4 linked regions of the Homo sapiens genome follow. The protein of the gene in region 2 interacts with the protein of the main gene of each other region in a pairwise test. Each region holds a gene or a part of one and is shown on either strand. Other genes may lie near its edges.

What was found.
Region 1: the proteins of TMEM42 (region 2) and ELOVL4 interact in binary tests that used the Homo sapiens proteins (3 or more experiments, as listed by UniProt).
Region 3: the proteins of TMEM42 (region 2) and MTIF3 interact in binary tests that used the Homo sapiens proteins (3 or more experiments, as listed by UniProt).
Region 4: the proteins of TMEM42 (region 2) and REEP2 interact in binary tests that used the Homo sapiens proteins (3 or more experiments, as listed by UniProt).

Annotation. Positions count from the first base shown.
Region 1 is NC_000006.12:79,923,482-79,930,763, reverse strand, and holds part of ELOVL4 (very long chain fatty acid elongase 4), read left to right. Parts: intron 1-4,382; coding exon 4,383-4,570; intron 4,571-5,731; coding exon 5,732-5,812; intron 5,813-7,282. UniProt on the Homo sapiens protein: Catalyzes the first and rate-limiting reaction of the four reactions that constitute the long-chain fatty acids elongation cycle.
Region 2 is NC_000003.12:44,856,721-44,865,000, reverse strand, and holds the start of TMEM42 (transmembrane protein 42), read right to left. Parts: upstream 3,090-8,280; 5' UTR 3,077-3,089; coding exon 2,885-3,076; intron 805-2,884; coding exon 658-804; intron 1-657.
Region 3 is NC_000013.11:27,440,402-27,447,683, forward strand, and holds part of MTIF3 (translation initiation factor IF-3, mitochondrial), read right to left. Parts: intron 4,756-7,282; 5' UTR 4,687-4,755; intron 842-4,686; exon of another isoform or gene 616-841; intron 49-615; 5' UTR 48-48; coding exon 1-47. UniProt on the Homo sapiens protein: IF-3 binds to the 28S ribosomal subunit and shifts the equilibrium between 55S ribosomes and their 39S and 28S subunits in favor of the free subunits, thus enhancing the availability of 28S subunits on which protein synthesis initiation begins.
Region 4 is NC_000005.10:138,434,148-138,442,324, forward strand, and holds the start of REEP2 (receptor expression-enhancing protein 2), read left to right. Parts: upstream 1-4,909; 5' UTR 4,910-5,061; coding exon 5,062-5,093; intron 5,094-6,793; exon of another isoform or gene 6,794-6,868; coding exon 6,869-6,941; intron 6,942-7,237; coding exon 7,238-7,314; intron 7,315-8,177. Other genes in the region: KDM3B (lysine-specific demethylase 3B), read left to right, coding at 1,473-1,553. UniProt on the Homo sapiens protein: Required for endoplasmic reticulum (ER) network formation, shaping and remodeling. May enhance the cell surface expression of odorant receptors.

The sequences.
Region 1 (7,282 bases), on a different chromosome or scaffold from region 2:
ATGAAAATATGGATAATTTAATATATTTAAAGTTTACATAAAATACATGAAGCATTAGTATTCATGATTTTCCTTTACTGTTTTAGCCCCCCAACCTTTTTTTGGTTTAAAACTCAGGTGGAACTGTTAGTAATGATGAATTTTCATATCGTTGTATGGCACTATTGTGACACAGCCCTTTTTAGTGGAAAAGGAAACATATGAAAGAAATATAGAATATTTGCATCTCATCAGAAGCACTAAAGGAAATATTAATGCAAATACATGCAGAAAAACAAACATAACTAGTATAGTATTATAACATGTAAAGACATGGAGGAATTTCATCCAAATATTATTAAAAGGTTGGGAATTGTTATGCTGTGGATTAGGGGTTGACAGTTACTGTAGCTTCCATGATAATCCTGGGAGGCTGAATTTTTGAAAGCTCTCTGACCCTGCTGAACTAGAAGGGCTAATTTGAGAAGGGTATGGTGTAAAATGTGGCCTTTTATAGGCTGAAAACAGGGATTTGTTAAGTGGTTGTTGAATGAATGCATGCCTTGCATTGTTGGGCAAAGAAGTGAGGGCATTGCTTTTTTCCCCTGGAGTAAGGAATGAAGTAAAAGGTCATTGAGCTTTGTAGAGCACATATATTCACTAAATACTAGGTTGATGAGTTGTTGACTTGAGGATAAAGTTATTATGCCAGCATAGAGGAGGATCTGGGAAAAGCTCTAGGAAGGGTTCTTGGACACTGAGGAAACCTTGAATATCAACAAATGTGCTTTTGGATTTGGCAGAAAGGATAGAGAATAGAGGAATAGTGTGAAAAAATTATCTACTCTTTATTTATTCATCAAATATATTTTTAGGTACTTTGATAGGCCTTGCAATACAAGAATGAAACACCCAGCCCCTCTTTTCAGGGAGAAAACAGTTTAAAAGAAGGTCACTGGACAGTGTAATGAGTGCTGTAATGGAATAGTAACATGTGCAGGTGCTCTGGTCATGCAAAATGCGTCCCCTGACCAGTTAAAATTTTCTTGATCCAGTTTTCCTCACCATTAGTCTATTCTTCCTCCTAATAATTATTTTTAAAAGTAACAATTTTCAGAAGTTAAAATAAACCTAAATGATCATGTAGTTTGTTACTGCTCAAAAGGGGATGGTCCATGGAATAATGGCATAGCATCAGTTAGAGCTTCCTGGAAAATGTGGTCTTCTTAGAAATGGGCTGCATGGGCTGGGCATGGTGGCTCACGCCTGTAATCCTAACACTTTGGGAGGCCAAGGTGGATGGATTGCTTGAGTTTAGGAGTTTGAGACCAGCCTAGGCAGCATGACAAAATCCTGTCTCTACAAAAAATACAAAAAGTAATAGGGTGTGTTGGCGTGTGCCTGTAGGACCAGCTACTTGGGAGTCTGAGGTGGGAGGATGGCTTGAGCTCAGGAGGCTGAGCCTGCAGTGGACGGAGATCGTGCTACTTTACTCCAGCCTAGGTGACACAACGAGACTCTGTCTCAAAAAAGAAAAAAGAAAAGAAAAGAAATGGGCTGCATATCTGACCCACTGTCTCAAAATCTGCATTTTTACCATGCCCACCCGCCCCCCTCCCCAACCTGGTGATTCGTTTTCTCATTGAAACTGGAGAAGCACTAATCTGGTTCACCTACTTCCCATCCAGTTTTACAGATGGAGGAAATGAAGATAGATTGTGCTCCTAAGGTCCTATGCACAGTAGCAGAGCCAGTGTTAGAACTCAGCCAGTCAGCTGGTCATGGTGGCTTCTTACTAGTGCCTCTTTCCTTCTCTCTTTTGGAAATTCTCTGTTGAATGAGAGAACAACAGTGCACCACACTATATATAAAAAAGAATGAACATTTTTATTTACTTATAATTTGTGGCATCAGCAACTCAGGAGGCTGAGGCAGGTGGATCACTTGAGCCCTGGAGGTGGAGGCTGCAGTGAGCCATGTGTGCACCACTGCCCTCTAGTCTGGACAATAGAATGAGACTCCATTTCTTAAAAAAAAAAAAAAAAAAAAAAAAAAAACCCAGTCACCAGTCTACTTACTGGTAGGGTCTTGTGTGCTTTCTCTGATGCCTCTGTTATTTCCTGTTTCTCTTTACTTTTTTACTCTTCTATTGGCCTCTATTAGTGTTTCATATTGTAAGATCTTCAGCTTCTCACTAGTGTCTCTTTCCCTCTCTCCTGTGGTAGTCCTCTCTTTAAATTTCTCTGTTGAATGAAAACGATACAGCATACCACACTGTACATCAAAAAGAATGAGCACTTTTACTTACTCTTAATTTCTGGCAGAGGTTTGGACCTATTTCTTTAATTTTTTTTTTCTACCCGCTACTCAGAACTTTCTTTGAAGTCAGTAGGAATTCTGTGTGTGGTAAGGGTGAGAGATAATCTATGATGTTAGGAATTAAAATCTCCTCACAGATACATTTATCTTCCTTTCTTTGTTACATGGAGTATGGCATTAATCAGAGTACTTTTGCTCTTTGTATAAGTCTCATGGGAAAAACAGCGCCTGCCTTAAAGTTGGTGGAAAAGAACAGGATACCACAGCAACTCCTTCTCTGTGACCTAGAACAGAGAGTTTGTCTAAATGTTTCTTCTCTAATATAGGGGGTTTGTCTAAATCTTTTTTTTTCTATAATATAGAAAAAGAAATACCTAAGTAGATGCACACCTCATGTTTTATAGGGGGCCTTTAGCATAGAAAGATATGGTCATAGAATGATAATGAACATAAAATGATAAAATGCCATTAAGAAAAGTGAACAGTCACTGATAAGACCTTCGTGGCACAACGCCTTTTTAACAAAAGTCAGCCGTGCTATCTTTTAAGTCATTTCCTCCTTGTGAGAAGTTTACCATCTCTCCTGTGGTTCAAATATATTGGTTTATTTTTAACTCTGAAATGTGTTTGATTTGAGTGATATAGCCATAATCTCTATGAATAGTAGACCTCCTTTTAAAACTATGAAATAAAATCAGTTTTTCTGTTTTCCTGGTTCCCATATGTGTTTTTCTTTCAAGTCATTATCACCTTTTTTTCCCATATCTCGAGTCATCAAGCAATAGCTCACCTTCTTAACAACTCTGATTTCATTAAAACCATAGTTGTGTCATTTCCTGACTTTGCAAATTGTTTGATTAAATATTGTGTTTCGTATCTTGTATCTTACTGTCTATTGACAGTATATAGACACAGATTAATTTTTTAAGTAAGGTATTTTAATACCTAGTTCACTAATCCAGAAGCATTTTGCATATACAGGCTTTAGTAAAAATGACAGTTTAAATAGGGAGTTATTATGATCAACAATTAAGTTAAATTCATTTAGGTTGGTTCTAAGAAGTTGAATTTTCTTTTACTACTTTAAAAATACATTATTTCTTCAAAATACGACATAAAATGTTTTGCATTGCCAAGAATAAACTAGAAATTAGATTTGCAACCTTCAACTGTTGTTTAGCTTTTAGAAATATAAAAATTAATATTAATATATTTTTATAATGTGTTAAAAGATGAATTTTTGTTAATCCCATCCATATTTCATTATCATGCTTGTTTCAGAAATGTTTTACTTGTGGCAACATTCCATTATAAAATTGATTTATGGTTGTGTATTTGAATATGCTGGACAATCAATTCATTTTAAGTAAAATAATGTGTTGCATTTTATATATATAGTTACACATATGTAAGTTATGCGATTTACAGCTCTAGAGAAAAACATTCAAGTTAGTTATTCATGGGAATAAAATAGGTGCATGTTCTCAATGAAAAAGTTAGAAAAATGTCTTGAATATGGTGACTGTTTACATTATAGAATTGTAATTAACCCTAACTTAATCTCTCAGTGCCCCTGTACTCTTGTCTTCAGTGTCTCGAGATATTTCAGCAAATGGCTACCATCGCCCCGTACGTACCTCTCCAGTTACATTCTTGCCTGCTTTAGGAGTGGACACACAGAGCAGCCTCCAAGCTGCCCTGATAAATTTCACGTGTATAATATGGAAGACAAATGTTTCCTTAACATATTTATTTTCTGTGTATGAAGTTTTTCATTAACTTTTCATCCCAAGATAACCACCTCTGTTTTTAGTGCGCTTTATTTCTTGTTTTTGTTCTGTAGGGTCTCTGTAAAACATAATGTGTGACATAAGTAATGAAGCATAATTTTCAAAAGCCACTTGCAGGAGTCAGTATTGTTTCTTTGGTTTTTATACCATGTATTTTTTGTTGGGACTCAAAGGACAGTGATCCGTATTTAGTCAAATTAGGAAATTAAGTTGAAACATCTTGATTCCTAAAAAGTGTATTTTATAAAACATTTACTGATTAATGAATTTTATGGTATTTTGTTCTCTCTATAGATAAGCGTGTGGAAAATTGGCCTCTGATGCAGTCTCCTTGGCCTACACTAAGTATAAGCACTCTTTATCTCCTGTTTGTGTGGCTGGGTCCAAAATGGATGAAGGACCGAGAACCTTTTCAGATGCGTCTAGTGCTCATTATCTATAATTTTGGGATGGTTTTGCTTAACCTCTTTATCTTCAGAGAGGTATGTTTTTAAGATCACTTTAATAATTTTCCAAGGTTATTGGAAATTTAAAAATGAGAATGTGTAAAACCATCATTGTAATATTTTACCCAGACATAACTGTTAGCTACTCTAAAAGTACATTTTTGACATTTTTCACTTTTGAATAACAAAAATATTAAACATGAGGTATAGGAAAGTTGTTTAAAGTGGAATTTTGAATAAGACCAACTGGATTCTAAAGTAACCCTTATTAGCTGTTCTGGCATTGAAAGTTATTTAACTTTTCTTAGCCTCGTTTTCCCCACTTAAATACCTACCATCTCAGGTTATTATCGGAGTAAAGTAAGATAATTTTTGCATAGTGTTTGGCACGTATTAAGCACTCAGTAAACAGTAGCAGCTATTTATTTATAATTCTTATTCAGTAGTTTCTGGTTTGGTAACTGATCAAAATATGCCAATTTCAAGTAAATCCTATTACATAATGTTGTATTTTGGGCTGGAATTAAAATGAATTAACTGCCATATAGCTGTTGTTACTAATCATTATATACTTTTCTGGGCACTAGCAAATTCTCCACAACATTTTCAAAGGAAATCCTAAAGGCTAGATTGACACAGCCATTTTTTAAATTGCATATGTATAAAGAATTTGTTTCCTAAGAGACTCATTAAAATTCTGTATGAAGCCAGAGAACTGACTAGTAATGCTAGGAAAATAAACAATAACTCTTCTTAGAAAAAGAAATATTTCTTTACTTGAAAACTTAGCCTCGAGTCTCAACTTCATGAACACTTTAATTTATTTGGATACCTGTACCTAATTTGTTAGATGCAAACCACTCTGGATCAAACATAGAAACCAGTTAAGGTAGGACAACTTTGAAATCTGAGTCCTAGCAATAAAAATTTCTCTTAATACTGTGAAGTATTTAATAGATAGAGTCAATGTTCAGTATAAAATTTACATGTGATTTTTAATTTAGATTTTAATTATAGAACAAATTAATGCACAGTAACTTCTAGCAATCGGAATGCATGAAATTTTTAATGCATTTGAAATTTTTAAAGAAAATATTGTGTTTAAAATAATTTGAAAGGCTACATTTTGTATATAATTGTGTTTTTAATGCTGTGTTTACTAAAACTTTACTACAAATATTATTACTCTTTTTCCAGTTATTCATGGGATCATATAATGCGGGATATAGCTATATTTGCCAGAGTGTGGATTATTCTAATAATGTTCATGAAGTCAGGGTAAGTACATTAAAAATACTCTTAATCAGTAAAAGTGGTTTGATTTTTATAGGCCCCAGTCTGTGAAAATATAGAATGTACTTTTTTTTAAGAGACAGTTTCTTTAACATTCATTTAGAGACAGTTTCTTGCTCTGTCCCCCAGACTGAAGTGCAGTGGTATGATCATAGCTCACTGCAGCCTCAAACTCCTGGGCTCAATTGATCCTTCTGCCTCAGCCTCCCAAGTAGCTGGGACTACGGGTGTACCCCACCATGCCTAGATATTTTTTTACTTTTTGTAGAGACAGGGTCTTGCTATGTTGCCCAGTCTGGTCTTGAACTCCCAGCCGCAAGGGATCCTCTTGCCTCAGCCTCCCAAAGTGCTGAGATTACAGGTGTGAGCCACCACACCTGGCAAAATGTACTTTAATATGATAGTGAAATTATACTAGATTGTTATGAGTCAGTAAAACTATGCTTTTTTAAAAAGTACTTAATTTAAAATTTGTTTTTGTATCTCAAAAATGTTTTTTATTTTGCAGCATGAGTGAATATGCATTGAATTACTAGAATGCAGTACTTGTTAAAGCAAAGAAGTCTCATGTTTATTTTAAAGACATTATTTTAGATTTTTGTTTGTTTGTTTTTGCTCAAGAGTAGAAACTCTTAGAGTCCAAGTTATGTGTTAAGAAAGTGAGGAAAAGTAAATGTTTTGTGAAGTGTGGAATATTTAGGAAATTAGGCATAGAACAATTTGTATTGGCATAAACTCAGTTTTTTTATATTTGCAGAAAAATAAAACACTAGTAACAAGATGTTATATTTTATTTTCCATTCACTTACATGAGTAAAATTAACATTAAGCAAAAGAAACAACAGATTACCTTATTCTATTACGTATTTATTGAACTCTTCTTATATACTGTGGTTCATACTAGAAATTACATATAAAACATAACATGTTTTATGTTACCTATAGTATATGTAGTAATAATATCTAGTGGCTTCCCTTGAGAAAAATAGTTTCCTGGCATGGGGAGTGGACAATATATAAATATCAGTATTCATCAAGACTGGAGACAAAATTGGTTTAATGTACTTAACAATTTTATGTACGTATCTTCATTTCCCTATTAGAAGACTTATGGACTGATGAAAAATCACCTGTCTTGGTTGTCATGTTGGTTTTATTTATTCATTAAATATGTATTGAGCATCTACTATATGTTGGTACTGGGGACAGGGGTGAAAAGCCCTGCCTTTGTGGGGCTGGCATTTTAGTGAGGGTGAGAAGGCAGACAGCAGCCATGTAAACAAATGACTAAGGAGGAAATAAAACCTAGAAGGTGACTGAGAGAAAATGAGAGACTACTCAGATGTATTGGCTATGAAAAATTTTCTTCTGATAACTATTGCCAAAGAATCTCTTCAGTTGGAGGGCTGACTTCTTGCTTGCCGTAGGGAAGGGAACAGGGATAAGTGTTTGACT
Region 2 (8,280 bases):
AGGTGGGCACAACCTCACTCTCCTGGGACTGACTTCCTTCTAAGGGTGCCAGGAGGAAAGGTCTGGAGCCAGAAGCCTTGGGCTTGAAACCTAGCTGTCACCTTCATCAAGTCACTCTATTCAATCTCCCCTGCATGAGTGGAGAGGCTACCTCCCTCACTGCACTGGACCTCAGCAAAGTACACAAGAAAGACCCAGCAGATGCCAGCAGGTAGACACAGCAGGTACATGGTATTTGTTTCTCCCTCAACTCAAGATTGACTACGCTCAGCTCCATCTTGTCAACCTCAGACTACACAGGGCAGAAAAGTTTCTGGGAATCCCAACCCTCTAAATGCCATGGAGCCTTGAGTACACAGAACCCTAGGAAACAGCTAGGATGCACAGTGACTTCAGAATGAGGGCTCCACCCTGGAGGAACAGCAAGCAAGTAGGCTTTTTACTGTCAGGCTTCACTCATATCTAACTTAAGAATTCTTCCATGATTAGAATTACATTTGCTCCATGAATAGAGCACTCATCCAGGGGTCAAGCCACAGCCCAACCTCTGCTTCAGTTCCTGTCCTTTCTCCTGTCTGGGAAAGGAGGGGTTATCCAAAGACAACTCACCCAGAACCCAGATTTAGGACAAGAGCACCACACCCTCAGGCTACTCACCGAGCTGAGGATATTTGAAAAAGTCACTGTGACAGATGCAATGGCTGAAGACATGGAGAAACTGAGGCCCCGGCTAAAGAAGGTCCACATCAGAGAATTGGTGCTCGCCATCACAATAATGCCTAAGACGCATAAACCCATGCTCACCTGCAGGAGAAAGTGTCACTGCAGCCACGTCCACCCTGGGCAGCAACCTGCAGACCCCCTCAAAGCACACCCAGGACTGTGGTTGCTGGCACCCAGGCTCCTACTGAGCTCCCACTACAGCTCAGAGGGCCTCAGAGCTTTCCTGCACAGGGCTTCACTTAACCCTCAGTGGGCAGCAGACCCATCTTACAAATAAAGCAAATTCAGAGAAGATACTCATTTGGCCACCTTGCTGGCCATATGATCTTGGGAAGAAGCAAAATGCTAATCCAAAGCCAGTATTTTCTACTGAACACCGGCCCCTTATTGGTCCCACAATGACCAGTGCTTGAAGATCAGTCCCAGAGGGCCAAGTAGTTCTTACTCCGTAGGTAGTAAGCCTAGGGTAGAGTTCTTATTTCTTGAGATCAGGCAAAGCATGAATTAGCAATGTCTGCTCTGTATTCCCACCCCCAAATCCTATACAAGTTACAGCCCACTAAGGCTGACCCCCTCTGGGTATTCTTGAGCTTTTACTCTGTGTTAGGTCCTGGGCTGTGTTTAAGCATTCTCATTTATTCCTTAACTTCATTTTACAGATAAAGAGCCAGGGGCATTAAGTAACCTTCCTAAAGTGCTACAGCGGTGAGAGCCACCAGGCTTCACAAGCAGGCAGTGTACCTCCATGCTCTTAACTAGGGCACAGCCTTGCCTGAGGGAAACACCACCTCAGACTATTTAGTGATCCCAGACATCCCTTGGAGAACTTGCAGGTATTTTCTTTCTTTTTTTTTAAAGGAGAAAGTCTCAAGAGAAGAGAAGATCTTTAGAAGCCTCCTACACAAAGGATATGCAGTCCCCCTTGCTTGGTGGTGAGTTAGAAACCTGCCTGGAGACAAGGCGGCGGGGGGGGGGGGTGCGGAATCTAAATATACTTATTACTTGTAATGGTTTCTCAGCAGCTGAACACATAGTGTCTTGAGAAAAAGGTGCTTGCTTATAACTTACACCAGGGTGTTCAATTTTTTGGCTTCCCTGGGCCACACTGGAAGAACTGTCTTGGGTCACACATATAATACACTAACACTAATGATATATGATGAGCTAAAAAAAAAATAATAAATCGCAAAAAAATTCATGTTTTAAATTTGCAAATTTGCGTTGGGCCGCGAGTTGGACAACCTTGTCTTACACAAAGCAGCATATGGGCCAGTGGCAACCTGCTTAAAGGGTTATGAAGGTCTAGTTCCTGACAACAAACTTCACGGCCCATACAAAGTTATTCATTTTACTTTCGACCACTTACCCCATGAACTACACCCAATGGGATACTAACCTGAAGCATGGCAGCTACTACTGGATTAGCCCTAAATAGGCTTAACCCTAAATAATCAGTGACCACTGTCCAGGTCAGAGGCTAACCTTGGGCTGCAGACGCAATGAAACCCCTATAGCAAGCAGAGGCTGGTCTACGACGTGGGAGGGAGAGGCAGAGATACACCTTAGCAGACGCCAGGATGCAAGTTTAGGAGTTCTCAGCGTCAGGAAAACATCCAGAACGTCTCTGTCAGTATCCTCTTATGCCTACAGTATCCCAAACTCCCAATTTTCCTGGTAGTGGGGCAGACTGGTCATCTGGTCACAACACCCGTTAATTACGGAGTAAAGGGATGGGCAAGAGGCTTCTCACCTTAAGAGTCACGTGGAGAGAAATGCTCAGGCACAAGGGACTTAAAATGAGAGGTAGAGGGTGGATGTAGGAGGTGTAGTTCTTCCCCGAGAGCGAACTAGCCCAACCGGAGAAAAGGTTTTAGGTCCCTGGTAAGGGAAGAGGCCTCAGTCCCCGACGTCTCTTACCACCTACACTGGACGAGGGTTTGGCGTGATTAGAGGCGAAACACTCTCTGCCACCCCAGCTGACCGCAGCGCCGCCCGCGGCCCGGGGCCCCGGCGGGACAGACCGGCGAGGGTGCGGCGGCGCCCTGCGCCCACCCCCGCCCCACCCCAAGAGCCCCGCGGGCCCCGCAGCGCCCCTCCTCCGCCCAGCGGCGCCCCGCCCGCCCGCCCGCAGCAGCAGCACCAACAGCGCCCCGGGCTCGACCTCGCTGCCGAAGGCCAGCTTGGCGGAGGCGGCGGCCAGGGCCCCGAACGCGCCGGCGCACAGACAGTTGAATACGCCCCAAAAGCGGCGCCGCATCGCACCCGCCTGGAGGTGCGGAGGGAATTCCGCGGGGGTGTCAGGGTACGCGGTCGCGGACACGGCGCCGCCCGGAGGCCCCGGCCTCTCGGCCATGTTGCCTGCTGACACCGTGCCTGGCACCCGCTGCCCGCAGGGCAGAGCGCGCGCCGCGATTGGATGGCAGCCTCACGTGACGCGACGCTCCTGTGACGCCACGCTCCGGCAGGCCCCTTGGGAATCGCTCTCCGGCGCCTCGGAGGGGGCGGGCCAGGTGGCAGAGACCCTGGGCTGTGGCGGCCTCCGGCCTAACCTGTAGTAGGTTTGTGCTCTGGGGAGGACGTCGGGACCCGAGGCCTGAGGCCAAGCCGGGTACTGTGGACGCTGTGGTAGAAGGTAAACTTCTCGCGGCTTAGCCGTCTCCATCCCGGCCACCCGGCTCCCGGTGAAACTTATTAAAGATGCCTAACGGGCCCCGCGCCGGCCCACCGAGTCCATCCACGTCGACCAGGCTTCTCCGCTCCACCCTCCAGCCTGAGGACCGCCGGACCAAGAGATGCCTCGGCAGAGGGCGCTGGGGACCTCCAGACCCAGAAAGACGCCAGAGCCCCATATGGGGACAAGCGCATCACAGAAAACCGAAAAAATGAGGATCTGCGATGAGAGGAAGACAATGATCCATAATCAAGCCACGCAGAATCAACATGACTTCTAATCTCCTGTTATACTTACGTATGTTTAGAATGTTTCCGGCTGGGCGTGGTGGCTCATGCCTGTAATCCCAGCACTTTGGGAGGCCGAGGCGGGTGGATCACCTGAGGTCGGGAGTTCGAGACCAGCCTGACCAACATAGAGAAACCCCGTCTCTACTAAAAATACAAAATTAGCCGGGCGTGGTGGTGCATGCCTGTAATCCCAGCTACTCGGGAGGCCGAGGCAGGAGAAGCGCTTGAACCTGGGAGGTGAAGGTTGTGGTGAGCTGAGATCATGCCATTGCACTCCAGCCTGGCCAACAAGAGTGAACTCCGTCTCAAAAAATAAAAATAAAAATAAAATGTTCCCATTTAAAAAGTACACGTCCTTGAAAATAAAGTGTTGAAATGTATAAAGTGCTATTTCCACTCTCCAGGAAAATCAGTGTTAATAGAGCATTTTTCTATATGTCTATTTAGTTATATATAGTTAAAATGTTAAAAAAATTATAGAATATGTATATGCATTTTTTAAACAAAAATGATTTCACAGTTGAACATACTGTTTAGCAGCATTCTTTTTGTATCTTCTGTTTAGCAAGTTTTTATGGAAGTCCTTCCACACCATGCTGCTTCTCTCACAGGGTGGTTTTGTGGCTCAAATAAAAGCACGGATAAGGCCAGGCACGGTGGCTCACGCCTGTAATCCCAGCACTTTGGGAGGCCAAAGGTGGGTGGATTACGAGGTCAGGAGTTCAAGACCAGATTGGTCAAGATGGTGAAACTCCATCTCTACTAAAAATACAAAAAAAATTAGCTGGGTGTGGTGGCGGGCACCTGTATTCCCAGCTACTTGGGAAGCTGAGGCAGAGAATTGTTTGAACCCAGGAGGCAGAGGTTGCAGTGAGCCGAAATTGCACCACTGCCCTCCAGCCTGGGTGACAGAGTAAGGCTCTGTCTCAAAAAAAAACACGGATAATTTCAGTAACGCCAATATGGTACAAACTGTCCCATTTTGCAGATGAGGAAATTGAGGCTCAGAGGTCTCACTGCACCACTCCATTGAGTAAGGAGCTGCTCAAAGATGATACCCTCTGAAAGCTCTTATCAGGAAATCAAGAGGTGTTGCATTGATCAACTCTGCATGCTTTAAAGAATGTAAAGCAAATTTTCTTAGAACAAACGATGCCTCTACTAGCACTAAAGGTTAAGCATCTCAGAGCCACCTCCTCTGTAAAGCCGTCTCTGCTACTCCCCTACCTTTGTACCAGTCCTGTGGTTGTTCCTCTGGTTGTCTGTTTCTCTGCTAGCCTGCAAGCTCCTTGAGGGCAGGGACTACATCGTTGTTAATCTCCAGGTCCCCAGCCCTGGTGATGATGGCTGAAGTGATGCCATCCTCAGACACTGCTGGGAAGTGATTTCTGCCTCTAAGAAACTCCTGTGTACACACATCACCTAGGGATCTTGCTAAGATGAAGATTCTCATTAGGTCTAGAGCTAGACTGAATTTTGTTTGTTTTTAGAGGGAGACAGAGTCTCTCTGTCACCCAGGCTAGAGTGCAATGGTGTAATCATGGCTCACTTCAGCCTTGAGCTCCCAGGCTGAAGCCATCCTCTCAGCTCAGCCTCCTGAGTAACTAAGACTACAGGCAGGTACCATCAAGCCCAGATTATATATATATGTATTTTTTGAGACAGGGTCCTGCTCTGTCTGCCAGGCTGGAGTACAGTGGTGGATCATAGCTCACTGCAGCCTCAACCTGCTGGGCTCAAGTGATTCTCCCACTTCAGCTTCCTGAGTAGCAGGGACTATGGGTGCATCATGCCTGGCTAATTTTTGTATTTTTTGTATAGACAGGATTTTGACATGTGGCCCAGGCTGGTCTTGAACCCCTGGGCCCAAGTGATCCACCCACCTTGGCCTCCCAAAGTGCTGGGATTACGGACATGAGCCACCGCACCCAAGCCGCCAGCTCCAAAAATTAGATTCCAGCCCTCAAAACCCACAACAGGACCTAATTAACCTCGCCTTCAAGGTGTACAATAATAGAGTAAAGGCAGCCAAGTAGCAATGTTTTTCTGAGTTGCAATTAGTTGCCTCCACTGTGAGAGAAACCCCAGCCACATCTCCAGCACACAAGAACTTCAAAACGTCTGAACCGCAGTGGCCAGGCTTTCCTCCAGGACCGCCTCCCACAGGAGCTTGCTTAAAGTGCCATAAATCTGGCCACTGGGCCAAGAAATGCCCACAGCCCTGGGATTCCTCCTAAGCCGTGTCCCAACTGTGCGGGACCCCACTGGAAATCAGACTGTCCAGCTTGCCCTGCAGCCACTCCCAGAGCCCCTGGAACTCTGGCCCGGGGCTCTCTGACTGACTCCTTCCCATATCTTCTCAGCTTAGCAGCTGAAGACTGATGCTGCCCGATCGCCTTGGAGGCCCCCTGGACCGTCACGGACACCGAGCTTCGGGTAACTTTTACAGTGGAGGATAAGTCCATCCCCTTCTTAATCAATACAGAGGCTACCAACTCCACATTATCTTCTTTTCAAGGGCCTGTTTCCCTTGCCTCCATAACTGTTGTGGGTATTGACGGCTAGGCTTCTAAACCTCTTAAAACTCCCCAACTCTGGTGCCAACTTGGACAACGTTCTTTAATGCACTCCTTTTTAGTTATCCCCACTTGCCCAGTTCCCTTATTAGGCTGAAATATTTAACCAAATTATCTGCTTCCCTGATTATTCCTGGACTACAGCCACATCTCATTGCCACCCTTCTTCCCAACCGAAAGCCTCCTTTGTGTCTTCCTCTCGTATCCCCCCCACCTTAACCCACAAGTATGGGACACCTCCACTCCCTCCCTGGCAACCCATCACACGCGCATTACTATCCCATTAAAACCTAATCACCCTTACCCTGCTCAATGCCAGTATCCCATCCCACAACAGGCTTTAAGGGGATTAAAGCCTGTTATCACTCGCCTGCTACAGCATGGGCTTCTAAAACCTATAAACTCTCCTTACAATTCTCCCATTTTACCTATTCAAAAACCGGACAAGTCTTACAGGTTAGTTCAGGATCTGCGCCTTATCAACCAAATTATTTTGCCTATCCACCCTGTAGTGCCCAACCTGTACACTCTTTAGTCCTCAATACCTTCCTCCACAACTCACTATTCCATTCTTGATCTTAAAGATGCTTTTTTCACTATTCCCCTACACCCCTCGTCCCAGCCTCTGCTTTTACCTGGACTGACCCTGACACCCATCAGTCCCAGCAGCTTACCTGGGCTGTACTGCCGCAAGGCTTCAGGGACAGCACTCATTACTTCAGCCAAGCTCTTTCTCTTGATTTACTTTCTTTCCACCCTTCTGCTTCTCACCTTATTCAATATATTGATGACCTTCTACTTTGTAGCCCCTCCTTTGAATCTTCTCAACAGGACACCCTCCTGCTCCTTCAACATTTATTCTCCAAGGGATATTGGGTATCCCCCTCCAAAGCTCAATTTCTTCTCCATCCGTTACCTACCTCGGCATAATTCTTCATAAAAACATACGTGCTCTCTCTGCCGATCATGTCTGACTGATCTCTCAAACCCCAACCCCTTCTACAAAACAACAACTCCTTTCCTTCCTGGACATGGTTGGATACTTTCGACTTTGGATACCTGGTTTTGCCATCCTAACAAAACCGTTAAATAAACTCACAAAAGGAAATCTAGCCGACCCTATAGATCCTAAATCTTTTCCCCACTCCTCTTTCCGTTCCTTGAAGACAGCTTTAGAGACTGCTCCTGCACTAGCTCTCTGTGACTCATCCCAACCCTTTTCATTACACACAGCCAAAGTGCAGGGCTGTGCAGTCGGAATTCTTACACAAGGACCAGGACCGCGCCCCATAGCCTTTTTGTCCAAACAACTTGACCTTACTGTTTTAGGCTGGCCATTATGTCTCCGTGCAGCGGCTGCTGCTGCCCTAATACTTTTAGAGGCCCTAAAAATCACAAACTATGCTCAACTCACTTTCTACAGTTCTCATAATTTCCAAAATCTATTTTCTTCCTCCCACTTGATGCATATACTTTCTGCTTCCCGACTCCTTCAGCTATCCTCACTCTTTGTTGAGTCTCCCACAGTTACCATTTTTCTGGCCCGGACTTCAGTCCGGCCTCCCACATTATTCTGGATACCAAACTAGACCCCCATGACTGTATCTCTCTGATCCACCTGACATTCACTCCATTTCCCTATATTTCCTTCTTTCCTGTTCCTCATCCTGATCACACTTGGTTTACTGATGGCAGTTCCACCAGGCCTAATTGCCACTCACCAGCAAAACAGGCTATGCTGTAGTATCTTCCACATCTATCATTGAGGCTACCGCTCTGCCCTCCTCCACTACCTCTCAGCAAGCCGAACTCACTGCCTTAACTCAGGCCCTCACTCTTGCAAAAGGACTACGTGTCAGTATTTATACTGACTCTATGCCTTCCATATCCTGCACCACCATGCTGTTATATGGGCAGAAAGAGGTTTCCTCACTACGCAAGGGTCCTCCATCATTAAGGCCTCCTTAATAAAAACTCTTCTCAAGGCCGCTTTACTTCCAAAGGAAGCTGGAGTCATACA
Region 3 (7,282 bases), on a different chromosome or scaffold from region 2:
GACTTTACAGTTTGTAGTGTTAACCTCTTTAGAAAAAGAGCAGCCATCCTAAGAAAGTAGTAAGAAGAGTTCATTAAAATTCAATCACTTATTCCCTTGGTCTGACATTGTGGTACATGGCAGGGTGTGTGTGAGGTTGTGGAGGCTGTAACTGCAAGTGTGAGGGAAATGCTGTTCTCTAGACTTTCAGATCCACACACAGGAAGTCTACACTGATAAAGCGGACTAGCAGGTGACTCTGGCCAGACTAACTCATGGTGATACTGTCCCCAAGACAAGTGGCTATTAGAATAAACCAGATTTACATAGCATTTTGGTTTCACTTTTTTTTTTTTTCTGTACACATGATCTCATTTGACTACTTAGTTGACCCCTGAACAACTTGGGAGTTAGGGAAACAGACCCCCTGTGCAGTTGAAAATCTGTGTATAACTTTGACTCCTCAAAAACTTACTAATAGCTTACTGTTGACTGAAAGCCTTATGAATAACATAAGCAGTTGATTAACACATATTTTGTATGCCATATGTATTATATACTGTATTCTTACAATACAGCAAGCTAGAGAAAAGAAATGTCATTAAGAAAATCATAAAGAAGAGAAAATATATTTACTATTAAGTGGAAGTGGATCACCATAAAGGTCTTCATCCTCATTGTCTTCACATCAAGTAGGCTGAGGAGGAGGAGCAAGAGGAGGGGTTGGTCTTCTCTCAGGGGTGGCAAAGGTGGAGGAAAATCCACATATATGTGGACCCCATGCAGTTCAAACCTGTGTTGTTCTAGGATCAACTGTATTTCTCATGCATCTTGTAGTGCCAACTCCAAAAGCGAGTGTCATCTTAGGGCTTTATTTATGAGGATGCAGTACATAAAATGCTTGGTGATTCATAAACACCAATTGATAAACTTCTAATATAATTAACTGTTAACAATTTTTCAATACATCTGATGGTATATAGCAGATAGGAACACACTATGGGAAAGGGACCTCTCCAGGAAGGAAGCCAGCCCACTGCAAGAATAACTGAGCCTGTCAGAAAACACTGTGACATAAATCAAAGTGCTAACCTCATAAACTATAAAGATCATTCTCAAGGTAAGGCAGGTGTTAATTACTACCAAATGTTAACAGAGGCATGTATGGTGACAGTGGTTTTACTTCATGGTTATGAGACTGAATTTGAAGCACTTACAAATGGCACATTGATTTTTTAATTGCTTTTCTGTCCTTCCATTCATGTATTTGGTAAATCTTAGAAGTACAGGCTGAAAGAGTGCTGAGAGGACCCATTCATCTCATCTAGGGCATGCTAGGAATCATTAGAGAATCACAAACTTGGAGAGGTGTGACTTGTCAAAGATGAAAGAGGAAAACAGAAGGTGTCTTCAGGGTGCTTCTCAAAGAATGGTCCCAGAATCTCCTGGGGTGTTTAAAACTGGAAGTTCCCTCTGGTCCCTGGCTTTGAGCCCACTGGGCTGTACAACCCACTTATCTCTCACCTGTCATGTTCAAGAGTGATATGCAAAAAAATATGGTAAATTCAACAGAAAGTGATGGACATGCATATTCTCAACACCCTCCTTACCTAGTTTGGTAACACCCAACACTCTAATTTATAGCTCTGGTGCCAGTCTCTTCTCTTGAGTTCCACACCTGTAGGGTTAACCGCCTACCCAACCTCTCCACTTAGATATGTAATAGTCATTGAGGATTAACGTGTTCAAAGTTCAATGCTTTGCCTTCCATGCAAAACTTGCTCCTCCCTCAGTCTTCCCTGTCTCATGTAATTGCAACACATTCTTCTGGTTGCTCAGGCCAAAAATACCAACGTTATCCTTGACTCTTTATTTTCTCTCAGCAACCCATCCGCAAAACCTACCGTTCAACCAGTATAACCACTTCTCACCTTCTCTACTGCTATCATCCCACTCCCAAACCGCCGCGCCGCTCAACTGCATCACAGTAAAACCGCATCACAGTAACAGCTTCCCGACTGCTCTTCCTGCCTCTGCCCTCACAGCCTGGAGTTTATTACTGCTAGGGCACACAGAGCAATCCTTAAAAATGCGTAAGTCAGATCACGTTCCTCCTCTGCCCACACCCTCCCCTGGCTAGTATCTCACTCCAAGTAAAAGCTAAGCTCTCTACCATGCCCACTGGCCTGTGCCGACCGTACTTCTTCTGGCTCACTCTGTTCCAGCCTCCTTGCTGTTCCTTGTGAACAGTGAACACACCCCTCCTCTGGGTCCTGGCACCCAGAAGTTCTCTCTCCCTGCAACACTCTTCCCTCAGATAGCCTCATGGTTCATTTACCTCGTCTCTGCTCAAACGCTACCTACTCAGCGAGCCCTTCCCTGACCCTTCCATAAAAGAGCACACCCCAACACTCTCAAACCCATTACCTTGCCTTTTAAAAACTTTACTGCATTCATCACTGCTGGACACATTCTATATTTATTTGCATATATGTTCATAATCTTTCCTCACTGGAATGAAAGCTTCATGAGAACATGGACTTTGTCCATTTTGTTCACTGCTGTGTTCCCCGGCACTACAGCTCAGAGCCTGGCTCAGCATGCACATGTCGAATGAATGCACGGGCCGAAGGAAACAGCCAAGGAGCTATGGCAGGGCTGCTGGCATTTAACCTCTACACCTTCGGATGTGTCACGAATGCCTACAAACTACACCCTTCACATTTCTAGCTGGCATTTCAGATGCCCGTCAGTAATGGTGAGTATCTGTGGCCAGATGCTCCATCCACAGTGTATGACATGCATTGATTTATGGTTATTACCCAGCTGGTGGCTCCAGCTGTAGATGCTGTAAAGGCTCTAAGGTGGGAGCAAAGTGATTTTAAATCACTGACATACTGTTTAATAAAAAGTCAGATCTTTTGTGAATGGAGGAAGCCCCCAAACCAAAAAAGAAGAAAAATCTGAAAAGATCACAGAAGATTTTTTTTTCACTTATCAGAAAACTAGCAGCAGCATCCAGTCCCAAATGTCACTAGGTATTCTGCTAGGGGACTCTTAAGTTCCTGCTCACAAGCCTGCTCTATAAACTTTATGTCTAAAATCAGTGTTGTTTCTTTCCAAAGTCTGTATTAGCGACAATGATGTAGAAGTTATCACATGTAAAATCATGTTACTAAATAGATAGATATAAATTCTAATATTCTTGATATATACAGTAGACAAAACAGTTCACTGCAATTAAGCTTTAATACTAACTCAGTACTGGCTATCTTTTTCCCTTAGTAGTTATGAATAAGAGCTAAAGTGCCTTGTTTAATAAATTATCAACATATTAAAATATAAAAAATTTCAAAATTTGATTTTTTTCAAACAAGCAAACAAAATAACTAGATATAGGAAAAGATGAAAAAAATTTATAAAAATGTTGAAGACAAAAGCAATTCATTCCCCTATTTTTCCTAATTGCCAGTATTTCTCAAGTTTTTTTATAAGTGTTATTTTTATACTTGAAAATAAATTTTATTTACAAAATAAAGACTATTTCAGAAAAATGACGTAGGTTTTTTAAAAAAGCTTTAAAAACACTTTCCAAGAAGGAAACAAAGGAAAGGGAAAGAATAGAAAAACACTGGAAGTAGGGCCGGGTGCAGTGGCTCACGCCTGTAACCCCAGCACTTTGGGAGGCTGAGGTGGGCGGATCACAAGGTCAGGAGATCGAGACCATCCTGGCTAACACAGTGAAACCCTGTCTCTACTAAAAAATAAAATAAAAATTAGCTGGGCGTGGTGGCGGGCGCCTGTAGTCCCGGCTACTCGGGAGGCTGAGGCAGGAGAATGGCGTGAACCCGGGAGGCGGAGCTAGCAGTGAGCGAGATTGCGCCACTGCACTCCAGCCTGGGCGACAGAGCGAGACTCTGTCTCAAAAAAAACGAAAAAAAAAAGAAAAACACTGGAAGTATATAACTTTTAAAGTTCTTTGCCACTAGTTTAAATTTTTAAGAAACTTCAATTTTTATTGATGTATACAGCAAACAATGCAATTCATTGCAATTAAGCTTTAATACTAACTCAATACTGGCTTTAAATCAGCAAAATTGAAAATATACGTTTCTTCAAAACAGGCCCTTATAGATAAAAATATAAATACAAAGTTAAAACAACCTGTAATATTACATTTAAATTGCAGCTATCAACATAAATTCATAATTTAAAAACTTTTTATTAGGGAACTTTTTAACCTTGTACAGAAAGAACTGGATAATAAACAGCAGCTGGGTTTCATCTTTACCCCTCAACTATCTCCCCCCAACCATCCAGGAATGCTTTCAAAGTAAATCCTACTTTTTCAGGAAATAGTATGTATCTCTAAGAGGTACTCCTTAATCTTTTTAGTATTCACAATATTATCCCAATTAAAAAACGTTCCTTTATTTCATCAAATATTTAGCTTTCAGATTTCCATGATGGTATTATGATTTTGTTTGTTTACATGTCATTTACAGTTTGGCAGCATGAAGAGACTCCCACTGGTCAATTTTGGTGTAATTTAAACAGTAAGGCATAATCACTGTCATTCATTTCAATATACTGAATATACAAAAATCTATGAAAATGATAATTTGCCACAACTGCATGGGACTATTATATTGATTTTTTACTTTGAAAATTGCTAATTAAATAAAAAGAACTGAGCATTTATCCTACCTTTTTTAGGAAGAACTGTAATCATCCCCAGTTGATGAGGAGAAGCTCTTCTGTAGAGAAGAATGACAGCTAATAAACACAAAAGAAAAGTAAAAGTAATTAGAAAATCATGCCACGCACGATGTCTCACACCTGTAATCCCAGCACTTTGGGAGGCCAAGGCGAGAGGATCACTTAAGGCCAGGAGTTTGAGACCAGCCCGGGACACACAGCAAGACCCAGTCTCTACAAAAAATAAATTAGCCAGGTGTGTTGACACGCAACTGTACTCCCAGCTACTGGGGAGGCTGAGGAAGGAGGTTCACTTGAGCCCAGGAGGTTGAGGCTGCAGTGAGCTCTGATCACACCACTGCACTCCAGTCTGGACAACAGAGCAAGACCCTGTTTCAAAAAAAAAAAAAGAAAATCACCATTTTTCCAACCCCAACGAAACTACTGATTCAGGCAGGATGCAAGAGAGCTGATGCCAAAGGGTCACAAACAGATTACTTTCAGACTGAGAGGGAAAAGCACACTCTGCTGAGGGTAGACAGCTGTCTGTCATCCTAAGCCAACGTCAGACTCAGCATCTCCAACAGTGGAACAACCTGCCATCCTTGCCACATCTCTGGATGGGAAGCTACCCAAAGTGCATGGCACCTTCTATTAAGCAGCTTTGCCAAAAAGGTTTGACCTGAACCTGATGCAGGGTCTAGCTTCCAGTTTCCAGGGGATACAAGGGCCAGACTCAGAGAAACAATAGAAGATGCCACAAGGAAACAATCTGACAAATCCAGATGGAACAAGACACCTGGTTAGTGTCTAAAAAAGCCAATGCCATTGGGAATGAAAAGGGAAGAGGGAAGCTATTCTTGAGTGAAAAAAAAAATCAAGGAGACATAATTTTGCTGAAAAGAAATGTTGGGAATGAGGGGAAAATCTGAATAGGGACTAGGTATTAGATACTATTAGAGACGTATTGTTAATTTTCTTTTTTCTTTTTTTTTTGAGACAGGTTCTCACTCTGTCACCCAGACTGGAGTGCAGTGGGGCAATCTCGGCTCACTGCAACCTCCGCCTCCCAGGTTCAAGTGATTCTCCTGCTTCAGCCTCCCAAGTAGCCGGGATTACAGGTGTGCACCACTACCGCCTGGCTAATTTTTGTATTTTTAGTAGAGATGGGGTTTTACCATGTTGGCCAGGCTGGTCTCGATCTCCTGACCTCAAATGATCCACCTGCCTTGGCCTCCTGAAGTGTTGGGATTACGGGCGTGAGCCACGGCACCCGCCTGTTAATTTTCTTAGGTGTGAAAATGGAATTCTTAAGAAACAAATGCTGAAGTATTTAGGATAGTGTCATGACATCTATCACTTGCTTTGAAACCATACAGCAGAAAATATAAACAATGCACTTACGGCAGCATTTGCTAAATCTAGGTTATGGTTATACGGGTGTTCAATAATTAATACATTTTTAAAGAACAAATCAATAGCCTAGAGGGAGGAATGGTTCACTGGTAATGCCAATGTAACTATTCTAGTCTGTGTAAGTTCTAAATTTCACTGTAATTTAATACATTGACATTCTGGCTTTGTACATAATTTTAAAAAATATTCCCTTTATTCGTTTCAAGCCTATATCTAAGTGACCCATAAATAAGGAACTTTATAAACTTAAAATTCTGATTTTTTTGTAATGCATAGTGCCTTTATTTCTTCATTTAGTTTTCCTTAAACTCAGGTCTAAAAGTCTCATCATAAATGGTGATGGGGGCGGATGGGAAGGAGGCTGGCATAAAAAAAGTACACATTAGGTACAATGTATACGATTCGGGTGATGGTGCACTAAAATCTCAGAATTCACCACTATATAATTCGTCCATGTAATGAAAAACCACTTGCAGTCCAAAAGCTACTGAAATAAAAATTTTAGAAGAATAAAACAAATGGTGATGGTTTCAGTTTGAGGCAGAACTTGTACAATTTTTTGCTAGTGAACGGTTAAAAGTTAACTGGTCTACAATGGGGTGGTGTTTCTCAGAAACCACGGCCTGTCGGCATCACCTGGGGATGCTTTTCAAAACACAGATGTTTCCTCTTCCCTATCCTGTTCAGAACCAGTGGGTTAGGCCAAAAAAAAAAAAAAAAAGATGAACTTTAAGAAAAAGAGTAAGAAAACACTATAAGTGGGGTCAAGGGTAGTTTGAGCTAGGATGCCTGAGACTACCCCTAACCTTTCAAAGTTGAATAAAAATAGGAAGCCATGTTCTCTGATGAAAATCTCTGATGCCTCTGTGAGGTAAACAACACTAGGCTGAAGAGGCCAGGAGACTAACTCAAAATAGAAACAAACGCTTACGTTCTTATGATAATCCTGTTGCATTTGCTGCACTCACTCCCACAACTATACTCTCCGAGACAGCCACAATATTCTAAAAACCAATTATCTTAATGTCAATTACTTATAATGCATAACTTTATAGTATGATATCCATTTTTAATTCGATGATTACTCAGACTTTATCTGAGTTTTGACAAGTGCATATACCTTTGTAACCAAAACTCCTATCGACAGAACATCACCATTATCCCAGGAAGTTCCCTCTTGCCATTTCCA
Region 4 (8,177 bases), on a different chromosome or scaffold from region 2:
CAGGAGGCTGAGGTGGGAGGATTACTTGAGCCCAGGAGTTTTGAAGCTCTCGTGACCTATGATCACCCCACTACACTCCAGCCTGGGCAACAGACTCTGTCTCTTTATTTAAAAACAACAGGCTGGGCGCGGTGGCTCACGCCTGTAATCCCAACACTTTGGGAGGCCGAGGTGGGCAGATCACAAGGTCAGGAGTTCGAGACCAGCCTGGCCAATATGGCGAAACCCCGTCTCTACTAAAAATACAAAAATTAGCCAGGCATGGTGGTGGGCGCCTGTAGTCCCAGCTACTTGGGAGGCTGAGGCTGGAGAATCGCTTGAACCCAGGAGGCGGAGGTTGCAGTGAGCTGAGATGGCGCCACTGCACTCCAGCGTGGGCAACAGTGTTAGACTCCATCTCAAAAAAAAAAAAAAAAGACCTTTCCTGACTACCCTGTTTAGAATAACAACTCCTGCTCCAGCACTACCAGTCCCACTTTCACTACTTTATTTTTCCTGTAGTATTTTCACCATCTGAGATATAGCTATAGATACAGATATAGATATATTTTTTTAATCTGTTACTTAACCCTACTAGAATGTAAGCTATTTAAGCTCTGTGAAGGCAGGAATTTTACATTTTACTCACTGCTTTTCCTTAGCACAATGTCTGACACATAGTAGGTATTCATAAATCTTTGTTGAAGCAATGCAAAAAAATTAATGGAGAATAGTAAAAGAAGGACTTGGATGCCCATGACCCAGCTTAAGAAATTATAGCACACATACATATACAGCAACTACATGGTTGAAGCCCCCATGTACCCTTCCCCTTTGCATTTCCCCGCTTTTCCTCCCCAGAAATAACCTCAGTTTTCTTGTCAGCCCTTTAAAAGAAAGCTGTCTTTATTCTCTTCACCTTAATATGCCTGTTCACTTTTTTCAATAACTTTTATTGTGTGTTCCAATTTCACAGGTAATATATCCAAATCAGAAAACATATAAGCACGAAGGGAAAAAATAGGCCATAATCCTGCTTTCCCCTCTTGTTTTAATGCATCCTTATTAGCTGTAGAACCTTAAGGAAGCCTCTTAACCATATAAGGAAACAAAGTTCTCCAGGTGTTCACTGTGGCCTTAGTTTCCGCAGTTTCTCCTCTGTAAATTGGGCATGATAATAATAGAACCTACCTCATAGGATTCTGTCAAGGATTAAGCAAAGGTCCACATAAAGAGCTCAGCAGCAGCGCCTGCCCAGGACATAGTAAGCACATAAATGATGGTGATCAGATGGCCTTTCACATAACTTCATTATTCTTTTTTGAGTACACACCTCATGCCCTATGTGATTTGTAAATGACTGTGGGGATTGATACAGGAACGCACAGTCCTTTTTGGGAGTTTCCCCACTAAACCAGTAGGCTTACAGTCAAGGTAGAACGTACATTTGCATGGGGCTGCTGTGAACTGACTTTGCTGTACACCTTCTCTAGGTGAAGAACATCATTTACCATGCAGTGAAAGATGCGGTTGGCACCCTCAAGGCTCATGAATCCAAACTGGCAAGGTCCTAGGCATGGAGAAACTCCAAGCTCCTCTGTGAAGCAGGTCTTTCACTCACAACACTTAACAGGGAACGGCAGGGCTCTTTGCTGGAGCAGAGGCCCTTCACCCAGAGCCAGTGTGGTCAGTATTCCAAACTCTCCAGCCACTCTCTTCTACGCTGCCTCAACACTGAAGGTTGACACAGGAAAGTCGTACTGTTCACACACACAGTTTGAGACTCCAAGCCAAGAGTGCCACATCCCTATCCTGTGGCCTTTTGGAAATCCAAATTGCCTGAACATGGCGGGGCTTTCCTGCACATTCTCCTGATTTGAGATTCACGGGCACACCTTTCTTTTCTTTTCCTCTTGTGCCTAGTTAAGTGGAAATGTGTTTGGAGATAGGGGAAATCACATAACTGGTACAAGTATGGGGTAATTGCTTAAACATGCCTGGTGGAAGTCTGATAGCGTCTCTGCACGTGACCTCTGACAAAGCCCATCCCAGGAGACGGGGTGAAGCTATTCCCCACACTCTCCTGTGAACACTGGAGTCTTGCAAGACCCAGGGAGAACCCACTGCTTTTCCCAGGAGGCTCCAGGATTAGGAAATGTGTGTATTTAGTGAAAAATAGGTTTGTAGTGAAATAGTTACTATTTCATGAAAGTAGATATTTTTAGAATTTTTGAAATACCACAGTTGTTTTCCTGGATTATAAGGAAAGGCACATTACATTTAGTCTTCCTTTCGATATAAAACTCTTTGAAGAAATATGATTTTTAGAAATCAGCTACCCATTATAGCACAAAATCAGCCAAAGCAGAATTTTTAAAAATTGGCTTTTTTAGGATTCTTTTTCTCCCCCTCCCATCTTAGTCTTACCTTGAGGGAACAGTCATATGAGAAGGAACTTTGTCACATCTAAGCTGTGGTGTGTTCCCCATGTGTGTGTACAACACTGGTGACTCCAGGAACCATTTTCACCTATTACCAGTGTTCCCTGGGGACTCCTCTTAATGTTTCCAAATGGGAAGGACAGTTGATTTCCAACATGAGGTTTTTTGTTTTTTATCCAGAAATATTTTCAGCAAAACTTTCCAACTGAGTGGAGTCTGATTAAGGATTTATTTGAAAATGGTGGGATTCATTGGCCCATAGGTACATTGGAAAATGTATATCTCTCCAGCTGTACTGTAGTGCCCTGCAGGCTGTTTATATGTTCACAGTTACTTTTTTTTTTTTTTTTAAATAAAAGTCATTTAATGTAGAATACTTTTAATTTCACTTTCTGTATTTTAATTTTGTTGAAGGGCTGATTGGGATTTCCATGTTCTTATTAAAAATCTAACAAATCTGTTTGGAGTGGACTAAATTATTCGTGTACCAACCCTTCTAAAATCAACATCAGATTGGGAGTTGGGTTGGAGGTGGGGGATTCATTTCCAGGTCTTCATGACTGTGCTACACCCAGATATTTTTCTTTGCTTGTTGAGACTGTGCCATGTTAGAAAAAAGGAAAGTGCCAGGGTGAGGTCAGTATGGTTTGGGGAATTGGGGGTAAGGGGAAGGGGCCACATGAATTAGAGGGTAGAAAGAGAGACATGTTTCCCCATACTTTATGCTTTGTGAATGGAGTGGGAAAGTTGGGGTCCTCCCTTCCTGTGGCAGAGTCTGGGGGGAAGGGTCATGGTGTGTGGCCTCAGCAAAGTTGGACAGTCTGTGGTGGGATTCTTAAGCAGGCAGCCTGGCTGCCTACATGAAACGTGTGGCCATAGATCCACCTTAGAGATGGTGGGAGACACTCATGTGGGATTTATCAAGCAGTAATTAAAGTGTTTCATTGTGGGGTGATAACAGACTGCATTCCAATTAGGAGATGTTTTCTGGAGAGGAAGTTGTAAAGAATAGCAAGAGGGGTTATCAGAGGCTGCTTTTCTGGAACGTTTTGGGAAACATCTTCCAAAGTGTTTGAACCTGGAAATATAATTTACCAGGTTAGAAATAGACCATTGTGTTGTTCAGGGATACTGAGCTTGAATAAGACCATGACTCTTTGAAATACACAGTTCTGAATGTGTCCTTTCAGCCCAGATGGGCACAGGTTGATGCTGTGGTCACCCGAAGGATTACAACTCAACATAAAGGGTAGAGGAATGCAGAAGCTCTAAAATGGGACAGGAAAGGAGAGCAATAGGGCTGGGGGTGTTGGTGGATGGTTGGAGGTTGGTTGCTTTCCTGAAGATCAGGAGGCAGGCTAGCCTACATTCTGGATATAAATGTCTTTAGAATCAGGACATTCACTGCCACTAGTGCTTGCTGATGGGGGTGGAACTGGAGCCCCAGGACCCTCTCGCAGCCCCTCTGTTTGAAAAGAAGGTTGACCCTTTGTTGTCAGTAACCACATTGAGAGCATAAAGCTCTGTTCCGCTGCAAAGCTTAGGAGCTGACAACCTAAAAAAGCAGACCAGCAGCCCGGTGGCTCACACCAGTGATCCCAGCACTTTGGGAGGCTGAGGCGGGTGGATCGCTTGAGCTCAGGAGTTGGAGATCAGCCTGGGCAATATTGCAAAACCCCATCTTGGCAAAAAAAAACAAAAAACAAAAAAACAGGAATTAGCTGGTGGTGTTTTGGGCCTGTAGTCCCAGCTACTCGGGAGGCTGAGGCGGGAGGATCATTCAAGCCCAGGAGGTGTGCTGAGATTGTGCCACTGCACTCCAGCCTGAGCGACAGAGTGAGGACCTGTCTCAAAAAAACAAAACATCATCTGGTCAGGGGAGATCCTCTTTCAACGGGGTGAGAAGGAGTGGGGTGGACAGGTGCGGCTGTACCTGTGACTCAGGAGCTCAGGTGGATGTCTTCAGGGCCTGTAATGAGGAGAGTTTGCTAGTCAGCAGTTGGGGGATGTAACCTGTTTAAAGTAGGCTTCCTGGGGTCATCTTAGCAGCATGACTTGGTGGCTTTGTGACTCTCAACAGATTATTGAGCCTTAAGCTTCTCATTCCCTTATCTTCAAAATGAGGGCTTTTATAGCGCCTGCCTTATAGGGTGGTCAAGAGGATTCACTGGCAACGCAGTGAAGCTCTTAGCACAGGGGCTGGCACACAGTAAGCGCCTGGTGTGGGCAGGGCAGGAGGTGGGCAGGGGTCGATTTCAGGATGTAACCATGGAGACCTCCACGACAACAGCCTAGGGCTTGAAACCCAAGAAAGATGAACAAGCGATTCGAGGAAGGCAGGGCACTGAGGGTCGGAGGCGCATGCCCGGCCACAGCAGGTGCCGGGGCGGGGGCGCGCCGCCGCCGCCGCGGCGGCCTCCCGGCCTCCCCTTTAAGAGCCGCCACCGCCCACGGCCCGCCGCTGCGGCAGGGACCTCCCCTTTAACGGCGGCGCTGGGCGCTCCGCTGCCCCCGCGGCGGCTGCTGCAGCGGCTGCTGCTGCTACTGCGGCTCCTGCTGCCGCCGCCGCCGCCGCTCGGCCTCAGGCAGCTGCATCCTCGGCCGGGCCGGGTCCCCGCCCCGCGCCGCGCCCGGCCCCGCCATGGTGTCCTGGATCATCTCTCGCCTGGTGGTGTGAGTGCGGCGGCGGCGGGGGGTGATGCGGGCTGTGATGGAGGGCGGGGGTGTTAAAGCCCGGGTGGACTTCTCCGAAGCTTCGTGCAGCAGAGTCACCTAAAGGCGCTGCGTCCTTATTTGGGGCCCCCAGAGACATGGAGATGTGGCACCCAGGACTGGAGGGGGGAATATTAGGGGAGCGTGGCAGGCCTGGCTTCCCAGGGACCTCACCCACATTCTTTATTAATAACCTCTTTTATTTCTACCGTCCTTGCTCCTGCGCCCATCCTAGAGGCTGAGCAGCACGGCTTGATTTAAAAGGGGAGGCAGGCGCGTCCCCTCCCCCACCTAGCAGGTCTGGGCTGGAGGAGATCCTCAGACCCGGGCCCTGTCCCTCTGGGGGAGGTAACAGGGTGATGGAAGAGAGTGGAGCAAGGCAGGGCCTCATCATCATTCCGCAGCTCAGAGCCATCACCAGGCCCCTTGGTCTCTCCCTTCCACTCACTGTCAGGAGACTGGGGACGAGGGCATATGCCCTTAGGCCCCCTAGGGAGGAAGTCTGGGTATCGGGAAGCAGAAATGCTCGGAGGACAAAGTGTGAGAGGTAACTGGGAGAGGGGATGTGTGTGCTCAGCCTGGGATTGTGGACCCCGCTGGGGGAGGACGCTCCGTGGCCTTCATTCCAGGCTGCCAGCCACACTGTGGAGCTGTGTCTCTGGCACCTCCCCGGGCCCCAGGAGGGAACACACACCATTCCCCACGAGCCCAGACTTTGTCCTTGAGGATTCTGCTCCGCACTCCACTTGCACCAGCCGGTTTGGAAGTATCCCTCCTGTCCATGTGGAAACAGGCGACAGCCACACATTGTCAAGGGGCTGAGCCTGACAGGGGCTCCTCGTGGTTCTCGGAGCTATCCCCTGCCCTAATGAGGACACTGCCCCTCGGCCTCCACCGTTGGGGACTGACACCGGCAGCCCCACCCTGCTCCCTTCTTCCCATTCGGTACAGCCGGGCCGGCCAAGTGCTTCTGTCCTGGTTTACTCTAGACTCCTTCTCTTCCCCCACCCATCCCAGGGGGAATGGAGGGGCCTCACGCCTCCATGTGGCCTTCAGGGTGGCTGCTTCTCTCTTGCCTGGGCAAGCCCCAAAGGGCATCGGTCCTCTTCTTTCCCGGCCTGTGTCTTGTCTGCATTCTGTACTTGGATCACCAGCGGGGCCCTCCCCTGAGCCCTGTCCCTGTGGTGTTTACATGGGGGAATAAGCCTCTTTGCCTCTCTCAGGGCCTCCTGCCCCTGTGCCCTCTGTTCCCTAGGGCCCCAGGGCCACAGTGGTACCTCTGCCTGCCAGGTAGGGTGCCCTGTTAGGTGGTGTCAGGTTCCCTCGCAGAGCCTGGCTCTGAGGGAGGTGGAGGGTAAGGGCAGATGGGTGTGAATGGGCATGAGGTCAAGAAGGAAGACACCCTGTGGCAGTGACCTGACTCCCAGTCTCCATGACATATTTGTGTGTAACCAAGGATCATGGCGCAAGGGACTACATTGGACCCTCTGGCCTCTGGGCCTTTCCCTGCCTCCGGGGCTAGAGAAAAACTGAACAGTGGAGCGGGGAGGGGGCATCACCCTACCTGGCTGGGCATGTTCCATGCTGCTTTGACCTTAACCCCTGACCTGAGTTCATCAGTCCAGCGGGGAGTTCTGTCTCTCTTCCCATTACTTACCCAGGGGCTGATGCGGAGCTGGGAGGGAGAGGCCACTGCCCTTGGCTGAGAGGCCCAGTAACCATGCCTGCCTCCCTAGGCTCATCTTTGGCACCCTGTACCCAGCCTATTCTTCCTACAAGGCCGTGAAGACAAAAAACGTGAAGGAATATGTGAGTGGATGACCCTTCACCCCCTACCCAACCCACATGGCACAGAGAGGGGAGGGCACTGGGTCCTATTACAGATGGGGGTGACTTTGCACCAACACTGTCAGCCACTAACAAGACCCACCAGCAAAGGAGGGCCCTGGGTGTCCCACACAGCGCCTCCAACATGGCTGGCAGGCAGAAGTGGGGTCCTTGGTGTTCTCCCCAGCCCAGGCATGTTCAACAGGCAGAGCTGGGGTCCTGGGTGTCCCTGGCCCCTCAGCCCCGTGCCCCAGCCAGCGCTTCCCTCTGTCCCTCAGGTGAAATGGATGATGTACTGGATCGTCTTTGCCTTCTTCACCACGGCCGAGACGCTCACGGATATAGTGCTCTCCTGGTGAGGTCCAGCGTCCCCTCCTGTATCTCAGGGCCCAGGGCCTCTGCCTTTCTCTACCCAGCCAGCCAAACAAAAGACTGGGCCTGGGGGTGAAGCTCCTCCCATTCCTGACAATTTCATGGGGTCCTTGATATCTCCCCTCTCATGCCTAACTTGACCTGCAGAAGAACAGACATAGTAGTGCCAGGCGAGGGGGCTCACACCTGTAATCCCAGCACTTTGGGAGGTCTAAGTGGGTGGATCATTTGAGGTCAGGAGTTTGAGACCAGCCTGGCCAACATGGTGAAACCCCGTCTCCACTAAAAATACAAAAAAAAAATAGCTGGGCATGGTGGCGCCCCTGTAATCCCAGCTACTAGGGAGGCTGAGGCAAGAGAATTGCTTGAACCCAGGAGGTAGAGGTTGCAGTGAGCCGAGATCGCGCCATTGCACTCCAGCCTGGGCAACAGAGTGAGACTCCGTCTCAAAAAAAAAACAAACAAACAAGGAGTAAGAACAAACATAATCCCCATGTTTCTTTCTGGCGGCAGCCAGAGCCCCTCAGTGGAATTCAGGAAACCCGCTTCTGCCATGCTGCCTGCGACCTTAGGCAGGTCACAGCTCTCGAGGCCTCAGTTTCCTTATTTGTAAAATAGGCATATGATTCACTCCTATAAATGCTGGATACTTGCATTTCCAAGGCATTTTCCAGGCTGTACTAGACTACGTATGTATGAGCACTTTGAGGACAGGGAATATGTCTTAATCATCTGTATATTCACAGCAGGAACTCAAAAATGTTTACTGAATGATCAGATACCTCTTGGAAGAGGGGACTAATAACACAGTTCATCGGAACTCAAGAAGAGAATTTTACCAAGGGG